Homo sapiens: one gene and its partners. The protein of the gene in region 1 purifies or fractionates together with the protein of each later gene. This does not show direct contact. Each region holds a gene or a part of one and is shown in the gene's direction. Other genes may lie near its edges.

Evidence for each region.
Region 2: the proteins of DYNC2LI1 (region 1) and DYNLRB1 purify together in Homo sapiens (affinity purification with mass spectrometry; one large-scale study listed by BioGRID and IntAct). This does not show direct contact.
Region 3: the proteins of DYNC2LI1 (region 1) and DYNLT2B purify together in Homo sapiens (affinity purification with mass spectrometry; one large-scale study listed by BioGRID and IntAct). This does not show direct contact.
Region 4: the proteins of DYNC2LI1 (region 1) and IZUMO1R purify together in Homo sapiens (co-immunoprecipitation; one large-scale study listed by IntAct). This does not show direct contact.
Region 5: the proteins of DYNC2LI1 (region 1) and NPTN purify together in Homo sapiens (affinity purification with mass spectrometry; one large-scale study listed by BioGRID and IntAct). This does not show direct contact.
Region 6: the proteins of DYNC2LI1 (region 1) and KIFC1 purify together in Homo sapiens (affinity purification with mass spectrometry; one large-scale study listed by BioGRID and IntAct). This does not show direct contact.

What each region holds. Positions count from the first base shown.
Region 1 is NC_000002.12:43,801,539-43,805,038, forward strand, and holds part of DYNC2LI1 (cytoplasmic dynein 2 light intermediate chain 1), read left to right. Parts: intron 1-100; coding exon 101-171; intron 172-3,103; coding exon 3,104-3,201; intron 3,202-3,500. UniProt on the Homo sapiens protein: Acts as one of several non-catalytic accessory components of the cytoplasmic dynein 2 complex (dynein-2 complex), a motor protein complex that drives the movement of cargos along microtubules within cilia and flagella in concert with the intraflagellar transport (IFT) system, facilitating the assembly of these organelles.
Region 2 is NC_000020.11:34,515,008-34,519,221, forward strand, and holds the start of DYNLRB1 (dynein light chain roadblock-type 1), read left to right. Parts: upstream 1-1,414; 5' UTR 1,415-1,451; coding exon 1,452-1,454; intron 1,455-4,214. UniProt on the Homo sapiens protein: Acts as one of several non-catalytic accessory components of the cytoplasmic dynein 1 complex that are thought to be involved in linking dynein to cargos and to adapter proteins that regulate dynein function.
Region 3 is NC_000003.12:196,297,741-196,301,240, reverse strand, and holds part of DYNLT2B (dynein light chain Tctex-type protein 2B), read left to right. Parts: intron 1-3,500. UniProt on the Homo sapiens protein: Acts as one of several non-catalytic accessory components of the cytoplasmic dynein 2 complex (dynein-2 complex), a motor protein complex that drives the movement of cargos along microtubules within cilia and flagella in concert with the intraflagellar transport (IFT) system.
Region 4 is NC_000011.10:94,303,305-94,307,379, forward strand, and holds the start of IZUMO1R (sperm-egg fusion protein Juno precursor), read left to right. Parts: upstream 1-1,275; 5' UTR 1,276-1,575; intron 1,576-2,316; exon of another isoform or gene 2,317-2,326; 5' UTR 2,327-2,332; coding exon 2,333-2,470; intron 2,471-3,208; coding exon 3,209-3,418; intron 3,419-3,860; coding exon 3,861-3,996; intron 3,997-4,075. UniProt on the Homo sapiens protein: Receptor for IZUMO1 present at the cell surface of oocytes (oolemma), which is essential for species-specific gamete recognition and fertilization.
Region 5 is NC_000015.10:73,598,890-73,602,389, reverse strand, and holds part of NPTN (neuroplastin isoform b precursor), read left to right. Parts: intron 1-3,500. UniProt on the Homo sapiens protein: Probable homophilic and heterophilic cell adhesion molecule involved in long term potentiation at hippocampal excitatory synapses through activation of p38MAPK. May also regulate neurite outgrowth by activating the FGFR1 signaling pathway.
Region 6 is NC_000006.12:33,398,323-33,401,822, forward strand, and holds part of KIFC1 (kinesin-like protein KIFC1), read left to right. Parts: coding exon 1-65; intron 66-1,689; exon of another isoform or gene 1,690-2,322; intron 2,323-3,500. UniProt on the Homo sapiens protein: Minus end-directed microtubule-dependent motor required for bipolar spindle formation. May contribute to movement of early endocytic vesicles. Regulates cilium formation and structure.

The sequences.
Region 1 (3,500 bases):
ATGTAAAACTAGCCGATAATATTGCTGTCATATTTACAGGAGAGCGTGGCAGCAAATCTAATTGCTAAACTAATTTAGAATCTTTCTCTTCTCCACGTAGCAAATCAATATGTGTGGATCAGAATAAACCGCTGTTTATCACAGCAGGATTGGATTCTTTCGGTCAAATAGGTTAGTGAACTTATTAAGATTGTTCAATCTTTTTTTAATTGCTTATTGATTTTGTCCTACTCCATGTTCACTTTGTCTCCAACATACTCCTATTTCTGGTTTCATTATCATTGCTGTTATTTCCTGTGTGTTTGTTTATATGCCCAGTATTAATGTAACATGCATCACATTGACATGTTTGTGATGGAAGTGATGTCACCACATAAGAGACTGATTTTTCATTTCTGATCTCTATTCCACTGAAAAACAAATTGCAAGTATTTTCTTTCCCCAACTGATTTCCAGGTACTTTTAAATTTTAGCTCCTTGGCTTTAAAGAAGCTAGGAGCATAGAGTAGTGAGGAAATTCAAAGCTACATATTACAGGCAATTAGCAAGTATATGAGAGACTGAAGTGGTAGAGTAAACCAAAAAGAACACAGTTGTAACAATTAGGTATGATTTGATTTTTTGTTATGAAATAGCATGCCTCATCTAATGGAATGTATTTCCTAAACTCATAGACTCTATAGGCTTCTGAATCAAAAGGAAGTTTAAGAGTTTATATCTCAAGGCCCTTACCTTCCCACAGAAACTGTTTTCATTGTGAAGATCTTTGAGCCTCGCACTTCTTTATCCTCTGCAGGTGGCGTAGTTTGCTTTTAAAACTCTAATGGGCAGTAGGGTTTTTTTTTTTTTTTTGTATTTCCCATCCTCTGTTAGTCTTACAAGCTAAAGGTGACTTGACTTCAAATATAGAAATCTTTGTAATGAGATTATAGATTAATTGGAATGAAAGGAATGGAGGTGATTTTGCTTAGTGAATGGTCATGGAGACTGATGTTTATGATTATAATTAGCACCAACTTAATTCCAGTAGCAGTGAGAATCACTGTTGTACTGATAGATAATGCTGATGGAATTCTTTTGCTTCTATGAATAGTTGGAGGCCAGAAGAGAGTTCATAATTGCTGAATTTAAAAATCATGGCGCCTAGATCTCATCGGAATTAAAAACTTTTGCTCTATGAAAGCCCATGTGAAGATGAATAGACGTGCCATAGTGTGGGAGAAAAGAATTTCAAACCACATATATGACAAAGGACTAGTGTTTAGAATATATAAACTCAACAGAAAAATAAATAATCCAATTAGAAAGTGGGCAAAAGACATAAGCAGACATTTCATTTCAGAGAGGACATAAACATAGCAAAGCAGCACATGAAAAGGTGTTTAATATCATTAGTTGTTAGGGAAATGCAAATTGAAACCACAATGAAATATCACTATACATTTAACAGGATAGCTAAAATAAAAAATAGTGACACCACCAAATACTGGCAAGGATGCAGAGAAACCAGATCTCTCATACATTGGTGGTGGGAGTGTAAAATGGTACAGCCACTCTAGAAAACAGTTTAACAGTTTCTTACGAAACTAAACATGCAACTACCATATGACCTAGAAATTGTGCTGTTGGGCATTTATCCAAGATAAATGAAAACTTAACTCTCACACAAAAAATCTCTAGGCATATGTTCATGGCAGCTTTATGTTTAGTAGTCAAAACCTAGAAACAGCCCAGAAGTTGTTCAGCAGGTGAGTGACTAAACAACTGTGGTACATCTGTACCAGGAAACACTACTCAGTCATACAAAGGAACAAATAATTGATACACACAGACTGGATGAATCTCCAGGGAATCATGCTGAGTGAAAAGCAGCCAATTAGAAAAGATTACATACAGTGTGATTCTATTTATAAAAAATTTTGAAATGAAAAACATTTTAGAAATGGAGGCAGATTAGTGGTGGTCAGAGGGCAGGGATAGAACTATGGATGGGGAGACCAGGGGAGGGGTCGGGAAGGAGGAGGTTATGTCTATAAAACGGCAACACAGGATCTTTGTGCTAGTGGAATTAAGTTGGTGTCTCGACTGTGGTAGCAAATACATGAACCTATGCAGGTGATAAAATTGTATAGAACTTAATATACACACAGACACACAAAGGAATACAAGTAAAACTTGGCAAAGCTGAATAACATCAGTGGAGCGTATCAATGGCTTTCGCACCAAAGTGGTAAGGATGTCCTGGAAGATCACCAGTAAAACAGTTTTGGGGAACAATACAGTTGTTGGAAATAGAAAGATGGGAAATATCCAGTTACAAATTGCAAATGGCAGCAAAGTTTTAAATTTTTCAAATTAAATTATACAAGTAACACATAAAGATATCTCCTTGTAAAAAGGTAAAAGAGTACATACAAGGAGCAAATTTGTGTTCTTTCCAATTTCCTATGCCTTTACACACATGTGTATATAGTGTAAAAAAACTATTTGCTTTAATGTAATTATGTGTTCAGTCTATATCATTTTGGAATTTCCCCTTTTTATTCAATATACCCTATTATTCAGTACCTTTTAATTCAATATACCAATATACCTTAGTAGTTTTTCCATATTAATGCTGTATGTGGGTCTATTTCTTATTTTAACTGTTGGATAGTGTTACAGAGCATGGCTATGCATAGTAATTAATGCACTGTTCACCACTGATGAATATTTTGGTTGTAGGTCAATTTTTCACTGATAACAAATTATACTGCAGTGTGAAATCCTTAATACAGTACCAGTTTGCAGGTGTTTCTAGGGCAAACACTACCAAAAACTGGAATTACTGGTTAATAGGATATAGATACAGGTATAGGTATAGGGTGTGGAGAATGAGAGTTACAGTTTACCCATTACTCTTTGCCTCCTCTTCTTTCAGTACTAGAATCTGTCCCAGTGACCTTGCTATGCTGGGTAGGGTAAATTTTTATGGTGACTATATTAAGGAGAGGGAAAATGAGTGATCCGAGATGTATACCTTTGTTAGTGTCATTTCTTTTATTGGTGGAGTTTGTAATATTTTAATCATTGCAGTCATTTGTGGTAAAACTTGCTATTTTAGGATCTCCTCCTGTTCCTGAAAATGACATTGGAAAGCTTCATGCCCACTCACCTATGGAGTTGTGGAAAAAAGTGTATGAAAAGCTCTTTCCACCAAAGGTACATATTTCTAATTTTTTTAAAAGCAAGACTTTTAGCACTGTCTAACAGTTATAGGAAATGTGTCAAAGGGCTTATTATGATAACTTTGTTTTCATCTTTTATGCTCAAAAATCAATTAAACATTTGCTGAAAATGTAAATAGGCACTGTGGGGGTTAAAAAAAAAAAAAGGTAAGACATGGTTCCTGCTCCACTTTCAAAGAGAGTTATCTGGCTGTTAGAGAAGGGAGAGACAACTGAAAGGGGACCTGGCAGAATTGGAAGTGGGCCTCAGTGGTGATGAGAAAAGCTAGAAAG
Region 2 (4,214 bases), on another chromosome or scaffold:
TAAGGCTGGGAGTTTTTGTGGAAAATGACTCGGAGGTGATGTGCCCTTAACGCATTTTTATCGGGGCACACGGCATCAATATCTCCCCTTGCCAGTAATACTAACTTTGATCTGGTTACGGTGGTGTCTGCTAGGTTTCTTCGCAGTAAAGTCAATCCTCTTAACATGCAGACACTCCTGGAAGGAGAACCAAATCCTTCCTCACTGAAGAGCAGCTACTGTGGAATGAAACTTTGGAGTTAGATCATCGTTGAATCCAGCAAGCTACAGTGCCTGGGAGAAACAGCATTTATAAAGTATCGAGGTTACCGATACTTCCCTGAAGCTACCGGAGATAACGTTATGTGCGTGTTCAGCACAGTAATGTGGCACAGGGTTCACTAAACGGCAGCATGTTTTAACAGAAGTTATTTACTCCTAGAGGACCCAGAAACGTTTGCGGCCTGCCGGAACAGGACAACATAGGGCTCTGGGAAGAGTCCCCCTTTCAGAGGTGAGAACAAGACAGAACACACAGATGTGAAGTGCCTTCTGCTAGGTAACGCGAGGCGGGGCTGAGCTCGGATTCTAAAGACTCCCAGGCCAGCCCTAACCAATTCATCTCCGAGCTTGCACGGCATCTTACCCGGAGACTCGAGGTACCTGACTCCAGCCCCACCCCAGGCCTGCCCGATCCCGAAGCGCATTTTGGCCCTGGGCCTCTCTCTGGCTCAGTCTGGGCGCAAAGCGGGTCTCAGCAACCGTCCCACTTGCCTTCATACCCTCCCACCACGCTCCACTCAGGGACTCCAGAACCAGCTTAGACCTCCATTGAGAGCTGAAAGCCTCTTCCGATACCGAGAACCAGCACTGAAAGCCTCTTCCGATACCGAGAACCAGCATGGTTTTTGTTTTGTTTTGTTTTAGTCAGGGTCTCTTGCTCTGTCGCCCAGGCTGGGGTGCAGTGGCGCAATCTCGGCTCACTGCAGCCTCGAACTCCTGGTCAGGCGATCCTCCTACCTCAGCCTCTGGAGTAACTGGAACTACACGAGCGCGCCACCACGCCCGGCTAATTTTGTTTATTTTTTAGTAGAGAAGGGGTCTCTCCATGTTGCCCAGGCTGGTCTCGAACTCTTGGGCTCAAGCAATCCTTCCGACTCGGCCTCCCAAAGTGCTGGAATTACAGGCGTAAGCCACCGCGTCCAGCCAGAACCAGCATCTTTTCTGCACGGCTGGAGTTGGGAATTTTCCACAGCTTAGCGCACTGCTCCTTAGCTTTTCGCTTTGCCACAGTGGAAAGCAGATTTTCCAAGAATCCTGGCGGAGCCAAGATCGGCTCGCCCGCCCCCGCCTCACGCTGGCTCCTGATAGGCAGCTAGAGCTGTCCGTTTTGACAGAAACCTTTGCGCAGGCGCAGAAAGGCACAGGACTCGCTAAGTGTTCGCTACGCGGGGCTACCGGATCGGTCGGAAATGGTGAGCGTGCGCCGGGGTCTTGTGGCTGGCGGCCGCCCACCACCCCACGCCAGGCCTTCAGTCTTCCGAGGATGAGGGGATCTCAGAGCTCCGGACAGGGAATCGGTGGTGGCTGGGCGTGGCCGGGCCCGGGCCCCAGCCGACTTGAGGGTGGAACCCGGCGGCGGAGGCCTCTAAAGCCTGACCGAGGCGGGGCCGCCGGATCCCGCTGCCCCTTGACCGGAAGCGGGAGCCCAGCCTCGGCCAGGAAGAGATGATGGGCGAGGGGTGGGCGGCGGCCCTGCAGCCTAGAGTTTTGGGGCCTTGGTGCGCGATGGCAACCCTGGCAACGTTTCCCGGGAGCTCAGTTTGTGGCAGGCTCTGCCAAGCACTTTATGTATCTTGTATTTCCTCCGCCTCCTCCCAGCTCTGTGAGGTAGATACAATCTTTAGTCCCATTTTGTTATACATATCTGTTATTCAGCGCCCCGAGAAGCCAAGTGCTTTGCCCCAGGAAATAGTGGAGATGGATTTGAACCCTAGAAGCTTGACGGCCGCCACTCTGTCGGCGTGGTTCTTTCTAGCCGCTGGGACTGGGTGCCAGAGTCAGGAACGGGCGGGGTCTGCTCTTGGGGATCCCAAAGCTTGCTTTCTACCTTGCTTGCTGCAGCTGTGGGTTCTCAACGCCGTTACAGGTTTTGTGTTTGTAATCCTCACAGCTTGGGCAAAATTTGAAAAAGTTTCAAATTTTAAGCCATGTGAATATATTACTTTTTCAAAAATCTTATTTAGAAATCTAGAGCTTGTAATAAAAAAATTGAAAAAAGAAACCGTGTCATCACCTAGAGGCAACCACTTACAGTAGTCATATGACTTCTAGTCTTTTTTGCTTGTTTTTGGTTTATACAGTTTAGCCCCTATTGAATGTGCAATTGTGGGTTCTGTGTTTTTCATTATTACACCACAATATCTCCACATCATTACAAACATGTAATAATGCTTCAAATATGTATAACTTCATTTTTCACATCACTTCTTAAGCTGTAAAAAAAATTGATATATAATAGTTGTACACATTTATGTTGTAGATATACATGTAATATTTTGATACATGCATATGATGTGTAATGATCAAATCAGGCTATATTTATTATAGAATATCCATCACCTTAAACATTCATTATTTCTTTTTTTTTTTTTTTTTTTGAGATGGAGTGTGTCTCTGTCGCTCAGGCTGGAGTGCAGTGGCACCATCTTAGTTCACTGCCACCTCCGCCTCCCAGGTTCAAGTGATTCTCCCGCCTCAGCCTCCCGAGTAGCTGGGACTACAGGCGCCCACCACCACGCCCAGCTAATTTTTTGTATTTTTAGTAGAGACGGGGTTTCACCGTGTTAGTCCGCCTCAACACGGTGGTCTCGATCTCCTGACCTCGTGATCTGCTCGCCTCAGCCTCCCAAAGTGCTGGGATTACAGGCGTGAGCCACCACGCCTGGCCCACATTTTCTTTATCCATTTACCTATTGATGGACGCTAATTCCATAATTTAGCTATTATGAATAGTGCTGCAATATGAACATGAGGATGTAGGGATGCCTTTGATGTACTAATTTCCGTTCCTTTGAATAAATACCCAGTAGTGGTATTGCTGATTTATGGTAGGTTTTTTTTTTCGTTTTTGTTGTTGTTTTTGTTTTGTTTTGTTTTTTCGATGCCTTTGTCGAAAATCAGTTGGCCGTAAATAAGTGGATTTATTTCTGGGTCCTCTATTCTATTCCATTGGTCTGTGTTTTATACCAATACCATGCTCTTTTGGTTACTATACCTTTCTGGTATATTTTGAAATCAGGTAGTGTGATACCTCAAGCTTTGTTCTTTTCGTCCAGGCTTCTTTTGGCTTTTCTGAGTCTTTTGTGGTTCCATACGAATTTTAGGATTGTTTACAGGTAATACTTGCACACAGTAAAAAAATAAATGATGTAAAAGGATCTAAGTGAAAAATAAAATTCCCACTCTCCTAACCCCCAGTCTCAGTCTCTCCTCCTTTAGAAACAACCATTGTTAGTTTCTTTTTTTTTTTTTCTTGCAAACTTGACCCTCCTGGGCTCAAGTGATCCTCCTGCCTTAATTCCCCAAGTATCTGGGACTACTGGTGCACGCCACCACACCCTGCTAATTTTTTTGTATTTTTTTTTTGTAGAGTTGGGGTTTTGCCATGTTGCCCAGGCTGGTCTTGAACTCCTGGGCTCAAGTGATTCACCCACGTTGGCCTCCCAAAGTGTTAGGATTACAGGCGTGAGCCACCACACCCAGCTGTTAGTTTCTTATGCATCTATACAAGCACTTATATGGCCCCCCTTTTTCTTACTTAAACTGTAGCTTTCTAGAACCTGTATTATGCTACTCCGTGGTTATACTCATAAAAGCAATGCAAATTTAGATGCCTAGTTTAACTTTTTTTTTTTTTCTTTTGAAACAGAGTCTTGCCCTTTCGCCCAGGCTGGAGTGCAGTGGTGTGATCTGAGCTCACTGCAACCTCTGCCTCCCGGGTTCGAGTGATTCTCCTGCCTCAGCCTCCGGAGTAGCTGGGACTGCAGGAGCATGCCACCATGCCTGGCTAATTTTTCTATTTTTGGTAGAGACAGGGTTTTTTTTCTATTTTTAGTAGAGACAGGGTTTCACCATGTTGACCAGGCTGGTCTCAAACTCATGACCTCAGGTGATCCGCCCACCTCCGCCTCCAAAAATGCTGGGATTATGGGCGTAAACCACCATGTATGTTA
Region 3 (3,500 bases), on another chromosome or scaffold:
AACTCTCTCTTCTGCTGTGCAGGAAGAGTATTGGCCGCTTAGCTTCAGGTACTGAGCTGAATTGAGGTTGGGTTACAGTTTTATCTTTTTAAAAAATTTTCTTTTCTTGTGCCAACTCATCTGAGAGTTGTGGTTTTAAAAAGGCCCTATCTTAAATTCATCCCTTTTTTTTTTCTTTTTTGAGACAGAGTCTCAACTCTGTTGCCCAGGCTGGAGTGCAGTGGTGCGATCTCAGCTCACTGCAACCTCTGGCTCCTGGGCTCAAGTGATCCTCCTGCTTCAGCCTCCCAAGTAGCTGGGACCGTAGGCATGAGCCACCACGCCCAACTAATTTTTGTATGTTTTTGTTGAGATGGGGTTTCACCATGTTGCCCAGGCTGGTCTTGAAGTCCTTGGCTCAAGTGATTCTCCTGCCTTGGCCTCCCCAAGTGCCCAAGTGCTAGGATTATAGGTGTGAGCCACCACACCCAGCCTCACCCTTGTTTCTATTTTTTTTTTTTTTTTTTTTTTGGAGACAGAGTTTCATTCTTGTTGCCCAGGCTGGAGTGCAATGGCATGATCTTGGCTCACCACAACCTCAGCCTCCCGGGTTCAAGTGATTCTCCTGCCTCAGCCTCCTGAGTAACCGGGATTAGAGACGCACGCCACCACGCCCGGCTAATTTCTGTATTTCAGTAGAGATGGGGTTTCACCATGTTGGCCAGGCTGGTCTCAAACTCCTGACCTCAGGTGATCCACCCACTTTGGCCTCCCAAACTGCTGGGATTATGGGCGTGAGCCACTGTGCCTGGCCCCCTTGTTTCTTAATTGTAGCCCTCCAAGTCTTTCAACCAAGAACCTCGAATGTTCATTAGGCCTCTGCAGGCCTCTACCTCCAACAGGTGCTGACTTTCAGATCTTGTCTCCTCAGCATAAAACTTTGCTCTTCATGTCAGAGGCTTTTTCCTTAGTGTACTAGTTTCCTGTTGCTGCCGTAACAAATTATCACAAACTCAGTGCTGAAAATGGCACAAATATATTACTTTACAGTTCTGGAGATCAGAAATCCAAAATGGGTTTCATTGAACTAAAATGAAGATGTCAGCAGGGCTGCATTCCTTCTGGAGGCTCTAAGACTGAATCCATTTCCTCGTCTGTTCCAGTTAGAGGCCCCTGAACTCCTTAGCCCATAAGCCGTTTCCTCCAATTTCAAAGCCAGCAGCACAGCATCTTCAACTCTCTGACTCTGACCCACCTACTCCCTCTTTCTTTTGTAAGGACCCTTGTGATTTAGTCATACTAGTTACTTTATTTTATTTTATTCTATTTTTGAGAAAGAGTCTCACTCTGTTGCCCAGGCTGGAGTGCAGTGGTGCCATCTCGGCTCACTGCAAGCTCCGCCTCCTGGGTTCACGCCATTCTCCTGCCTCAGCCTCCCGAGTAGCTGGGACTACAGGCGCCCGCCACCACACCCGGCTAATTTTTTGTATTTTTAGTAGAGACGGGGTTTCACCACGTTAGCCAGGATGGTCTCGATCTCCTGACCTCGTGATCCGCCTGCCTCAGCCTCCCAAAGTGCTGGGATTACAGGCGCGAGCCACTGTGCCCGGCCTGAATTCAGCATGTCTTGAAAAGAAAACCTACCATGTGATACGCTCAGTTCTACTTTCTCCTTTTTTATGGGATCTTCCCTCCAGAATCTGATTTTACCTCCTTAGCTTTGTTAAGACTGCCGACTCTGCTGGGCACAGTGGCTCACTCCTGTAATCCTACCACTTTCGAAGGCCAAGGCGGGCAGATTGCCTGAGCTCAGGAGTTGGAGACCAACCTGGGCAATATGGTGAAACCCCGTCTCTACCAAAAATACAAAAAATTAGGGCCAAGCACAGTGGCTCATGCCTGTAATCCCAGCACTTTGGGAGGCCGAGGCCGGTGGATCACTTGAGGTCAAGAATTCGAGACCAGCCTGCCCAACATGGTGAAACCCCGTCTCTACTAAAAATACAAAAATTAGCCGGGCGTGGTGGTGGGTGCCTGTAGTCCCAGCTACTTGGGAGGCTGAGGTAGGATAATTGCTTCAACCCGGGAGGTTGTGGTTGCAGTGAGCCAAGATTGTGCCACTGCACTCCAGCCTGGGCAACAGAGTGAAACTCCATCTCAAAAAAAAAAAAGAAAAAAAAAAATTAGCCAGGCATGGTGGTGCATGCCTGTTATCCCAGCTACTCGGGAGGCTGAGACATGAGAAGTGCTTGGCCTGGGGAGGCAGAGGTTGCAGTGAGCTGAGATCGTGCCACTGCACTCCAGCCTGGGTGACAGAGCAAGACTCTGTCTCAAAGTAAAATTAATAAATAAAAAAATTTTAAAAAGTAAAGACTGCCAACTCTCCTACTAGTTAAATTTTCCCTCAGTAATTTGTTCTTTACCTGAGCAAGGCCCAGATTCTCAGCATCTAGCCCTGTGCCCTGAATTGGCAAATCCTCCAGGAAAAAAATCTGCTGCGGAATATCAGCTTACCTCCTAGAGTTCACCTCTTTCTGGAATTTTGGCTCCTCTAGGCCTGTTTGCTTTGGCAGCTCCCTGATTCATTTTATCCAGCTTTTCTTACTGTTCTTGGTGGGAGCATTATTAGCCTGCTACAAACTGTACCATTACACTTTTTCCAAGTCACACCTGTAATCCCAGCACTTTGGGAGGCTGAGGTGGGCCGATTGCTTGAGCTCAGGAGTTTGAGACCAGCCTGGCCCACATGGTGAAACCCTGTCTCTACAAAAAATATAAAAATTAGCCAGGCGTGGTAATGCACGTGTGTAGTCCCAGCTACTCGGAAGGCTGAGGCAGGAGAATCATTGAACCCGGGAGGTGGAGGTTGTAGTGAGCTGAGATTGTGCCACTGCACTCTAGCCTGGTTGACAGAGTGAGACTCCCTCTCAAAAAATAAAAATAAAATATAAATAAATAAAACAATTGGGGTCTCACTATTTTATATTTTTGTCTCAAAAAACAAACAACTCTCTCTTGTGGTGTGTGCTTGATTCTGCTTCTTGTCATGTCTTCTCACAAGTCTTTTAAGAGTAAGCGATTCCTGGCCAAGAAACAAAAGCCAAATCGTCCCATTCTCCAGTGGATCTGGTTGAAAACTGGTAATAAAATCAGGCACAACTGGAAAGGAGACATTGCAGAACAGCCAAGCTGGGTCTATAAGGAACTGCACGTGAGCTGGCACACATATTCACGCTGTATCAAGGTCACGGCCATCTTACTATAGCAAGCTGAAAACGTCACCACTGTCTGAACAGTTGGACGTGTTTTATTGGGAATATATTTTTTCTCTTTGCTTATATGCCCTGCGATAGTAGGCTGGGTTCAGTAATAAATATGTGAGACCTTTTGTTTCAGGAAAAAAAAGAACCAATATAATATAAGGTATATGTGTATGTTTCTCTGTGGGTATGGGTTGTGAACTGCCTGGGTGCAAAGCCAAGCTTTGTTACCTAGTTGTATGACCTTGTACACTTAATTTC
Region 4 (4,075 bases), on another chromosome or scaffold:
TGACAGCCTGCTTCTCCCTCTGTCAGGCTATAGAGATGCTATTACCATTTGGTATCTGACCCTAAGGAGGAGACTCCAGGCTCTGCTTAACGTGGGGACATGGGAGACTGGGTTAATAACTGTCACTGTTCTAGAATAAAGCCAACACACGCCTCCCAATACATGCACAACCTCATTATGGCATTTAACGTTAAAAAAAAAAAAAAAGCAGACCTCACTTGAGACCCAGGCACCCAGGCAGTATCTACTCTTTTAGTCCCGGAGGTTTCTCCCTCACCTGGTCCTTAAGCATTAGATAGGGAGTCGAGAATACCTGAAATTATATCCCAGCTCTGCTACTCACCGCTGAGCCTCAGTTCCCCACAGCTAAAACAAGGAGGGTGTTCATATTGGAGGTCTTTTTGAGACCTCAGATCCTGTAGACAGTACCAGGCCAGTGCCTGGCTCCTTGTTTGTGCTCAGCATTCAGTGGCTGTGATTACCCAGGTGTGGAGAATGTCATTTTCCAACATTAGTATATGCTTTACACATCAGTTGTAGCTGAACACCACAGAATGTATTTTATTCCATTAAAAAAACGCTTTTAGTGTTTTGTTTTCATTTCCTTTGTATCAATAAAACTTCAGTGATTTCAGCTACTTCTCTTTCAGAGAGAGAAAGAGAGGACATATTATAAAAACAAAGAAATATGCTCCTTTTCCAGCATTTTTATCATCTTTGGGACTCTCCCAAGAATCCTATCCAAGTTTCCAATCTCTCCTTAGCTGAAAAGGATAGTCTTGCAAATATGATCACTGCTGAGAACACTTGTAGAATATTTCACAGGACAACGATTCCTGTATGCTAAGGGAGGCTGCTTGGCGGGTTATGGAGGGACTTTCTTTGTTTTGTTTGCTTTGGCTTTGTTTGTATGTTTAAATTCTTGGGTCCCCAAGGCCACACTTCATCTCTGCATCCTGTGTCCTCGGTCTGTGCTCCAGCAGGGACCATAGTTCCTGTGGGCTGTGCGAGGACACTGTCAGAAAAGCCACCAGGTGACTGAGCTGATGCTTGGCTAACAGTGAAGGGGCAGGTAGAGCTACGGAACAGAACATAGGAGGGGCGTGTGGAGAGAGGATAAAAGAATAAAATTTAAAACCATTAAGACTTCCTCTATCCCAGGCACAATGCCAAGGTTTTTGTTCATGAACTTTCTCTTTATTTTTCCAATCCCATAATAAAAACTTCCTTTACAGAGAGAGAAACTGACAGAGAATTTGAGTCATTTTCTCCAGGGCAGCCAGCTAGTAAGTAGCAGAGCTGACAGCCGAACCCGGTAACTTATTGTAGAGCCCCGGATCTTGCCTACGATGGGGTCTGTTTCTCTGAGGAAGCAAACTTCCTCGGAACCCACAGGCCTGCAGAGCTGGGTGAGACAGATGCTGTTTAATGAGAGCCACGTGGAGTTCTCCTCCTGCACCTGGACCTAGTAGAAATCAGACTGGGTAATAAATGGGCGGGACATGGAACTCCCCTCAGCCTCATAGTCTCAGGGGGAGGAGGGAGCAGGAGCACCTGAAGGCTCCTGCCTTGAAAGTGAGTATGAAGAGAGTGCTGGAAGGGGCAGCATCTTTCCTCCTTTTACCTAACAGATCTGATTCTTTAAAAATATTCAAGGCCATGGCTGAGCTTGAAACTGGTTGTCTGGAGAGAGAACAGCCTTAGATTTGGACTTGAGGTTGGGCTCTGAAGAGGGGGGCTGGGCTCTTCTTCCCCAGGATGTTTGAGGCTCTTAGACCAGGGTAGGCTAGAAGTTTCCAGTTTCACCATGATGGGTCCAGGTCAGGCTCCTGCCAGACTTGGGGGACTGGGGGAGCCATGGGCTCCTGGGCTATGAAGGTGAGGGGCCCTGTGTCCTAAGAGGTTGGGTGCTTGAGGCCTGGGGCCCCTCTGCCTTTTGCTTTGTTTTGTCTCTCTTTCCACTACCTCTCATTACCACTACTACCCAGAACAGAGTTGGAAATAGGAAGGGCCCTCCTCCTCATTCCTGTGATGGGGATCAGGCTTTGGATGTAGAAGGCTCCTCCTATCTGACTCATGCCTCGGCATGCCCCTGGCTCTGCAGGGCCAGCAAGGCCTCCAGCACTGTGTCAGGCCTCCAAGGATTATTCTACCTGCCCTGACATTCTGTGATGCTGCCTCCAAAAGAAGGTCCTAGGAGCAGCCAGAGTGTTGCAATTATTTGAGGGAGATTGAAGCCCATCCCCCTTTCCCAGTGCCTGCTATGATGAAGGGGGTGGAGTGGGGTGTCATTTCCATCAAGTGTGCAGCATGGGTCTCTCTGTAGCAGGCCATGGCATGCTGGTGGCCGCTCCTGCTAGAGCTGTGGACAGTCATGCCCACCTGGGCTGGGGACGAGCTGCTCAACATCTGCATGAATGCCAAACACCACAAGAGAGTGCCCAGCCCAGAAGACAAGCTCTATGAGGAGGTACAGAGGCCAGACCTGGGTATGGGATGGGGAAGATCAGGGAAGGGACACAAATGCCAAGATGGTCTCCGAACCTCATCAACCCTGATCATTTGGTTCCTGGGGTTAGGAGTTAAGCAAAGGCAACTAGATGGAAAGAGACTATGCCTTTTTGAGACCATAAGAGCCAAGCGATTCAAAGTTCCCATTTCTGAGCTGCTCTAGCCACTGGGAAAGCAGGGACCGCTGGTGATCCCAGAGATCCATTGTTGACTCGGCACAGATGAAAACAAGCCTTCCTGCCAACAGGTCCTGGGGCAACATATGACTTATGTGACCCCTCCCCAAGCTCCTAAAGGCAATTTCCAGGGATATGGGAGGAAGAACACAGCTGGCATTTGGCCTATGAGACCCTCCCACCCAATGCAACCCCAGATTCCCCTGGGTCTCTCTGGGGCTCTTCTACCTGCTTTGCCCTAAAAGGCTTCTGCTGCCTCTCAGGAGCTGAGAGCCCAGAAGTTGTGTTTCTAGAGGACTGTAGCAGCCTGTGGCAGGGGGTCATTGTGCAGGTGCCTCTGCCCTTTGGGTAAATATTGAGAGATTATCAGGGTTCCTCTTATGTAGGGGCTTACTAGCTAAAGGCATCCCACTTGCTCAGGCCTCCTAAGGGACATTTTCATTTCACCACCTTTCTTCCCTAGACACTTGCCGATCCTTGCCCCTTTTGCCTGGGCCTTTTGTTTCTTCCTCTGCCTTCAGTGCATCCCCTGGAAGGACAATGCCTGCTGCACCCTCACGACAAGCTGGGAAGCCCATCTGGATGTATCCCCACTCTACAACTTCAGCCTGTTTCACTGTGGACTGCTGATGCCTGGCTGTCGGAAGCACTTCATCCAGGCTATCTGCTTCTATGAGTGCTCCCCAAACCTGGGGCCCTGGATCCAGCCAGTGGGAAGCCTGGGGTGGGAGGTAGGAAGCAGATCTGTGCCATGCCCTGTTATTATATTAACAGCCAGAGCTTTCACCCGATCTTATGCTGATGCCGCCAGGATGCTAGTAGGAACAGGAGGTGTTATTTCCCTATGGACAAGAGCAGAGCCAGAGGCCCCTGCTGGAGAATCACATGGGGGAGACTGTTCTGACAACAGTGGGATGAGGGGCTATCACCACAGGAGGCTTGGTGGAGTTGACAGACCTGAGCTTCAGTCTCATGTTCTGTCCCTACCAGCTGTATAGCCCAGGACAAACTATTAAATCTCTTAGCCTCATTGGTATTATTTGTAAAATAACACTTAGAGGCTTTATGGAAGATGATGTACATATGGTACCTGGTACAAATACCACTGTAGCTATTAGTAGTCTTCACATCTCTGCTATTAATGTTCTAATCTCTGGCTATGACTGCACCCAGGTGGCCCCGAGTGGGCAGGGAGAGCGAGTTGTGAATGTGCCGCTGTGCCAGGAGGACTGTGAGGAGTGGTGGGAAGACTGTCGCATGTCTTACACATGCAAATCCAACTGGCGTGGTGGCTGGGACTGGAGTCAGGGTGAGTGGTGCTGACAAGGCCTTGGTCGGGAAGAGGCCCCTTGGTGGTCCCCACAAGGGTGCAGGTGCAAAGGCTAGCA
Region 5 (3,500 bases), on another chromosome or scaffold:
CTTATGATCTTGGCTGTCATTTTCTCTTTATTGCGAGGAACGAAGGAGAGAACAGCATGAGCCAGCCACAGGGAATTAGAGGTAGAGGGGGTTTGAAGGGAACAGCTGTTTTTAAAAGAGGTGACAAAAGCAGGCAAGACTTAAAGGCCTGGCCTTGGCAGTAGTCAGTTGAGGGAGAGAGAAAGTTAGTCTGATTTCTTGTTCTGTGGGTTGCCCTGGAGGTAAATGTGAAAAATCATGATAGTCTCTCCTATATAGGGCTAGGCTAGCTTTTTTTACTTCCTTAGGGCATATATGAAAGCAGTTTTCCTGGGATTGGGCTCAACTTGCTCTTCTGTGTTTCCTTTTTCTTCTCACCCTCTGCTACATATCCACACATCCAGTTTTTCCTGCCAGCAAGCTCCTCCTTTTCTCCGGCTGCTAGTCCCAGCTGTCATCTTTGCCTCCCATCCCCCATCCCCAGTTATGCAATTTTACATTACGCTTCTCTTGGGTTTGCTGCCTCCATTTTTAATGCTCTGCCTGCTACCCCCTCCAGCATCAGCTTCTAGTCTCTTCCTCCCTCAAAGCCAGTAACCACTGTTCAGTTTCCCTCTTTATCACTGTTGCTCTGAATGCACTGATATTAATACTTTCCCAAAACTCTTGCAGATCTGGGCCCAGTCACTTAAGATAGTGGGTGGAGACGATGGTGGGGAAGAGGGTGGGGTAGGAGGTTGTCTTACAAAATTTAGGGTTTTTCCAAAATATTGGATGACCCTTGACCTAGAGAGCAAACAGATGCTTCTGTTGGCCTCCCAACTTTAGGCAGTGTGTGCTTTCTTGTTGAAGGTACATATTTGTTTGAAAGCCCTTAGTAATGAAAGGCAGGGCAGTGAGTCAGGCTCTGAACCTCCTGCTGCTGCTGCTGAGAGCCAGTTCTTTTCCTGAATTGAAGCTAATTTTGGATGGATAATAAGGTGGATGGTTGCTAATAACTTTCCCTTGCTAATTGTGATTTCACAGTACTTTGTAAAGAGGGTTCTTTTCTCTTTTCTCTTTTTCTTTTTCTTTTCTTTCTTTTCCATGCTGTTTGGAGGGGGAATAGATCTCTTTTCATGGTTTTTGATGAGTGTTCAGCTATCAAGGAATTCCTTAGTTTGTTTAGAGGCAGCACAGTTTATTGGAAAGAACCCTAGACTAAGCTAAGACCTGCATTCTAGTCCCAGCCCCACTCAGGATTAACTGCCTAAGTGATTTTGGGCAAGTCATAAACCTGTCTCCGCACCTGCCCTATGTATGAACCTTGTGGAACTGTGCGAATGAAATGAGATGTGATGTATGTGGAAGCTCTTTGCAAACTGCGGAGTTTTATAAAACTTTCAGGTGCTGCCCTTTATTAATTTGGCTCCTGACTACAGCATCAGAGAAATTTTTCCAGTGTCTTGTAAATTCCTTCCTTCTCTGAAGCCAGCCTTCTCCAGAGCAGGGCATTGGAATCATCAGAACTAGAGGCAGTCTTGCCTCAGAATCATCTTATCTTTTCACACTGTTCACCCTCCCCCCAGTTGCTTTAAGAACTCTTTGACCCAGTGCTTCTCTATCTCCATTCTCTAGTAAGATTATAATTTTATGGAGTTAGTGATCATAGTATGTTGCACAATTGGTCAAAGGTTCCTGGCTTTTTGTGGCCAGGAATTATTATTAATTAATTTATTAATTAAACTAAGTGGTGACAAAGCATATCTTTAACTTAAGTAACTACAAAAACCTTTTCAGGCCAGTGAGACACATTGACCACAGTTGTGGTAAGTGTTAAGAGACCATGCTTTCACTTTGGATTCCAGGCCAGACTCTTTGTTATTAGCTTGTGACCGTGGGCAAAATATTTAACTTTTTTGGACGTTAGTTTCCACATCTTTAAGAAAAATTATAATGGCACTTATCATAATGAATAAATGAATTTTGAATATGATAATGAATAAAGTGCTTAGCACATTGCCTAAACATATAATGCATACTTAGAAAATGTCACTGTTACTCTATATGTCTAATAATGGTAATAACAATAATGGCCTTCAAAGACCATTGTTGGCATTTTAAAGGGTTTTTTATCTTGTGTTTTAAAAGTTCATTTAAATATACATCCTATAATTTACTAATGCAAAGAACATTTTTGTCTTGGTCCCATTTTCCTTGATACAGGTAGAAAATTGAACTGACTCAGATCAGCATTCCTTACTCTTAGCAGGAAGTCTTGCCCAGGGTGGCATGATCTGGCTGAGTGACTCGCCCAGTTGTGTGCAGTGGGAATCATAGTCAGACTGTTTCTCAGCTACCTGTGACTTGTGTGTTATTAGGACTTGGGGTTACAGTGGAATTGGATGGATTCTTGGTGAAAGGATACTTTCAGGCATCTTTTTTACATTAGCATTGTCAACAGATTGATAAACAGGCTTAAGTCTAAGGCTGCTTTGAAGTACAATACAGAAGAAGGGAAAAAGTACAAAAGAAATCCACTAACAGTTCTAGGGCATAATCGAGTACATAATTACCGCATTTGAGAGGCTGTAACTCCCCAAGTTCACAGATAATGTGATAAGACCATTTGTGATTACCACTTATGGTCAAGAATATGATTAAAACAGAATAATACTTTTACTGCATTTCAGGGATTTACTGATATCCAGTTTTCTCTGGTGATTGAGCCAGTAGTAAAATAAATAAAACCAACTTCCTTTACTTCCCCTCCCTCCCTCCCTTCCTTTTCTTTCTTTCTTTCTTTCTTTTTTTTTTTTTGACGGAGTCTCGCTCTGTCGCCCAGGGCAGAGTACAGTGGCACGATCTTGGCTCACTGCAACCTCCGCCTCCTGGGTTCAAGTGATTCTTCTGTCTCAGCCTCCCGAGTACCTGGGACTACAGGTGAGCACCACCATGCCCAACTAATTTTTGTGTTTATAGTAGAGACGGGGTTTCACCATACTGGCCAGGCTGGTCTTGAACTCCTGACCTCATGATCCTCCCGCCTCAGCCTCCCAAAGTGCTGGAATTACAGGTGTGAACCATCACGCCCGGCCCTCCTTTACTTCTTTGTTTATATTAGCTGGCATTGACTTTGACAGGTGGGCAGGTGGTAGTTTGTGAGACCGAGACATGGCTCCTTGGATACCACTTTATTGGGCAGTGAGCTCAGCTCTTCATGCAGGGGCTTGGGGGCTCCTTTCTGTAATTCTAAAGCTTCTCCTGCATCTGAGAATGACATCTGTTGGGCTTCTTGGGGCCTCTGGTAGATATTTCCTTACAAGGAATGCATGCTGGATCTGAAGAGGTAGTTTAAAATGGCATATTAAAGGCAGAACGTTTAGTCTAAGCCTGTTAATCACTGCATTCCTGTGCTCCCCAGAGTCTGAAAATGTCAGGAATTGAAAGACTAGTATGAATTTGGAGGTCTTGGCCTCTACTTGAGTAAGTATAGTACCTCCATTAATGTTCTTAGTCCATGGTGTGGGGTTATCACCAAA
Region 6 (3,500 bases), on another chromosome or scaffold:
TACCACATCCCACCCAAGAGTTCCATCCCTCACTACAGTGCCACAGACACAAGGCCAGACCACAGGTGGGCTCTCAGGATGGATAGACTCCAAGGACATGGAAGTCCAGTGCTCTTCAACTCACTTGTTTCTTTTCTTTCAATTTTATTTTATTTTTTTTGAGACAGAGTCTCGCTCTATCGCCCAGGCTGGAGTGCAGTGGCTCAATCTCACTCACTGCAACCTCCTCCTCCCAGGTTCAAACGATTCTCCTACCTCAGCCTCCCGAGTAGCTGGGATTACAGGTGCCCACACCATGCCCAGCTAATTTTTGTATTTTTTTCAGTAGAGATGGGGTTTCGCCATGTTGGCCAGGCTGGTCTTGAACTCCTGACCTCAGGTGATCCACCCGCCTCTGCCTTCCAAAGTGCTGGGATTATAGGTGTGAGGCACCGCACCCAGCCTATTTTGAATAGGTAATAACATTTCATTTGGTTCAAAATTCCAAAGGCACAAAGGTTGTTGTATAGTGAAGTTTGCTTCCTATTTCTGTCCTCCAGCCACCCAATTCTGCTACCCAGGGCAACTGTGTGTTCTTCCAGGGAAATTCTATTGGTATTCAAGCAAGTAAGACTATACTCCCCCACCTTTTTTACATAAATGGTGGCATACTTTAGACATGGTCCTGCTTTTACTTATCTTAATCCAAATTGCTTTTTGGCATATGGAGTACAGTTGGCCCTCTGTATCCGTGGGTTCTGCTTCTGCAGATTCAACCAACCATCGGTTGAAAATATTCAAGGAGAGTGGGCACAGTGGCTCATGCCTGTAATCCCAGCACTTTGGGGGGCCAAGGTGTGTAGATTACCTGAGGTCCGGAGTTCCAGACCAGCCTGGCCAATATGGTTGAAACCCTGTCTCTACTAAAAATATAAAATTAGCCAGACGTGATGGCCCGTGCCTGTAATCCCAGCTACTCTGGAGGCTGAGGCAGGAGAATTGCTTAGAACCCAGGAGGTGGAGGTTGCAGTGAGCCGAGATTGTGCCAGCCTGGCGACAGAGCGAGACTCGGTCTCAAAAAAAAAAATGAGAAAATATTCATGGAAAATAAAAAATAAAACCAAAAAATACAGTATAACAGTTATGGTCATGTGTCACTTGGCAATGCAGATACATTATCAGAAATGCATTATTGTGGAAACATCATAGAATGTACTTACTGAAACCTAGATGATCTAGCCTGCTACACACCTAGGCTATCTGCGATAGCCTATTGTTCTTGGGCAACAAGCCTGTGTGGCGTGTTACTATACTGAAGCATGGTAGGTAACATAACACAGTGGTAACCATTTGTGTATATAAACATACCTAAACATAGAAAAGGTACAGTTAAAATATAATATAAATGATAAAAAATGGCACACCTGTACAGGGTACTAACCATTAAATGGAGCATGTTTGAATGGAAGTTGCTCTGGGTGAGTTAGTGAGTGAGTGGTGAGTGAATGTGAAGGCCTAGGGCCTTACTGTACACTGCTGTAGACTTTAGAAACATGGTACAGTTAGGCTACATCAAATTTATAAAAAATAGTTCTTTTATAATAAATTAACCTTAGTTTACTATAACTATTTTACTTTATAAACTTAACATTTTTTTTCCCACTTGCCAAGGCTGATGTAACATTTTAATCTTTTTTTAACTTTTTTTTTTCGACCAGTTGTCAAATGATCCTTTATTGAAATATTTTCCTTTGTGCTTAACTAGCTGGGCATTCCACAGCACCACTGTTGATGTCATCTATGATGTCATGAGGGTGGTGGCCATCAACATTACAGCCCATAGACTGGGCAGTCCCCGGAATCTCTTTAATGGTTCCAGAGAGTTCTCTGGCTAAGGATCGGTGCCGCATCTGTCGAGCAATGTTGACGATCTCATCAAAAGTGATATTCCCATTGTGTTTAATGTTTTTCTGTTTCTTTCTGTCTCTTGGTGGTTTCTTGAGGGCTTTGATGATCGGGGCAGAGGCAGAAGGCACCACCTCAATCTGGGCCTGTCTGTTCTCAATGGTCAGTTTCACTGTAATCCTCAGGCCCTTCCAGTCACCCGTTGCCTTGGCAATGTCATCACCAACCTTTTTTGGAGACAGACCCAGGGGGCCGATCTTGGGGGCCAGGGCAGAAGTGGCACCGACTTCACCTCTGGTGCACCTCAGGTATACGACCTTGATCTCGTTGGGGTCGAACTTCGGTGGCATGGTGGAGGCAGCTGGTGTCGGATGAACCCAGATTCAGGATGACCGAAGAAAGTTGCACCTTGGCCTCCTCCGAGCCGAAAGCCGAGAGCTTCTCTCTCTTTTTTTTTTGAGATGGAGTCTCGCTCTGTCGCCCAGGCTGGAGTGCAGTGGCACAATCTCGGCTCACTGCAAGCTCCGCCTCCCGGGTTCCCGCCATTTTCCTGCCTCAGCCTTCCGCGTAGCTGGGACTACAGGCGCCCTCCACCACACTTGGCTAATTTTGTTTTTTTGTATTTTTAATAGAGACAGGGTTTCACCATGTTAGCCAGGATGGTCTCGATCTCCTGACCTCGTGATCTGCCTGCCTCAGCTTCCCAAAGTGTTGGGATTACAGGCGTGAGCCACTGCGCCCGGCTAACTTTTTGACTCTTGTAATAACAACTGAAAACACAAACATTGTATAGCTTTACAGAAATATTTTATTCCTTTATATCCTTATTCCTCATGCTTTTTTTCTATCTAAATTTTGTTTTGGGCGGGGAGCATATATTCAGGGCAATATGAATCTCTGTCTCCTGGCTTGAAAATAAAATTTTTGTTTTTTGTTTTTTGTTTTTGAGACAGAGTCTCGCTCTTTCGCCCAGGCTGGAGTGCAATGGCGTGATCTCGGCTCAGTGTAACCTCCGCCTCCTGGGTTCAAGTGATTCTCCTGCCTCAGCCTCCCGAGTAGCTGGGACTATAGGTGTGTGCCATCATACCCAGCTAATTTTTTGTATTTTTAGTAGAGATGGGGTTTCACCGTATTAGTCAGGATGGTCTCGATCTCCTGACCTCGTGATCCGCCCGCCTCAGCCTCCCAAAGTGCTGGGATTACAGACATGAGTTACTGCGCCCCGCCTGAAATTCTTTTTTTAATTTAAAATTTTATTTATTTGTATTTTTTCCAAGAAATAAGCTTAAATTTGAAAAATTTTAAATATTATTTTGCTTTTCAAACTTTTTGTTAAAAACGAAGAAATATACACATTAGCCTAGGCCTACATAGGGTCAGGATCATCAACATCACTGGCTTTCACCTCCACATCTTGTCTCACTGGAAGATCTTCAGGGGCAGTAACACACATGGAGATGTGACTTCCTGTGATAACAATGCTTTCTTCTGGATTGCCTTTTTTTTTTTTTTTGAGACGGAGTCTCGCACTGTCGCCCAGGCTAGAGTGCAGTGGCATGATCTCGGCTCACTGCAAGCTCCGTCTCCTGGGTTCACACCATTCTCCTGCCTCAGCC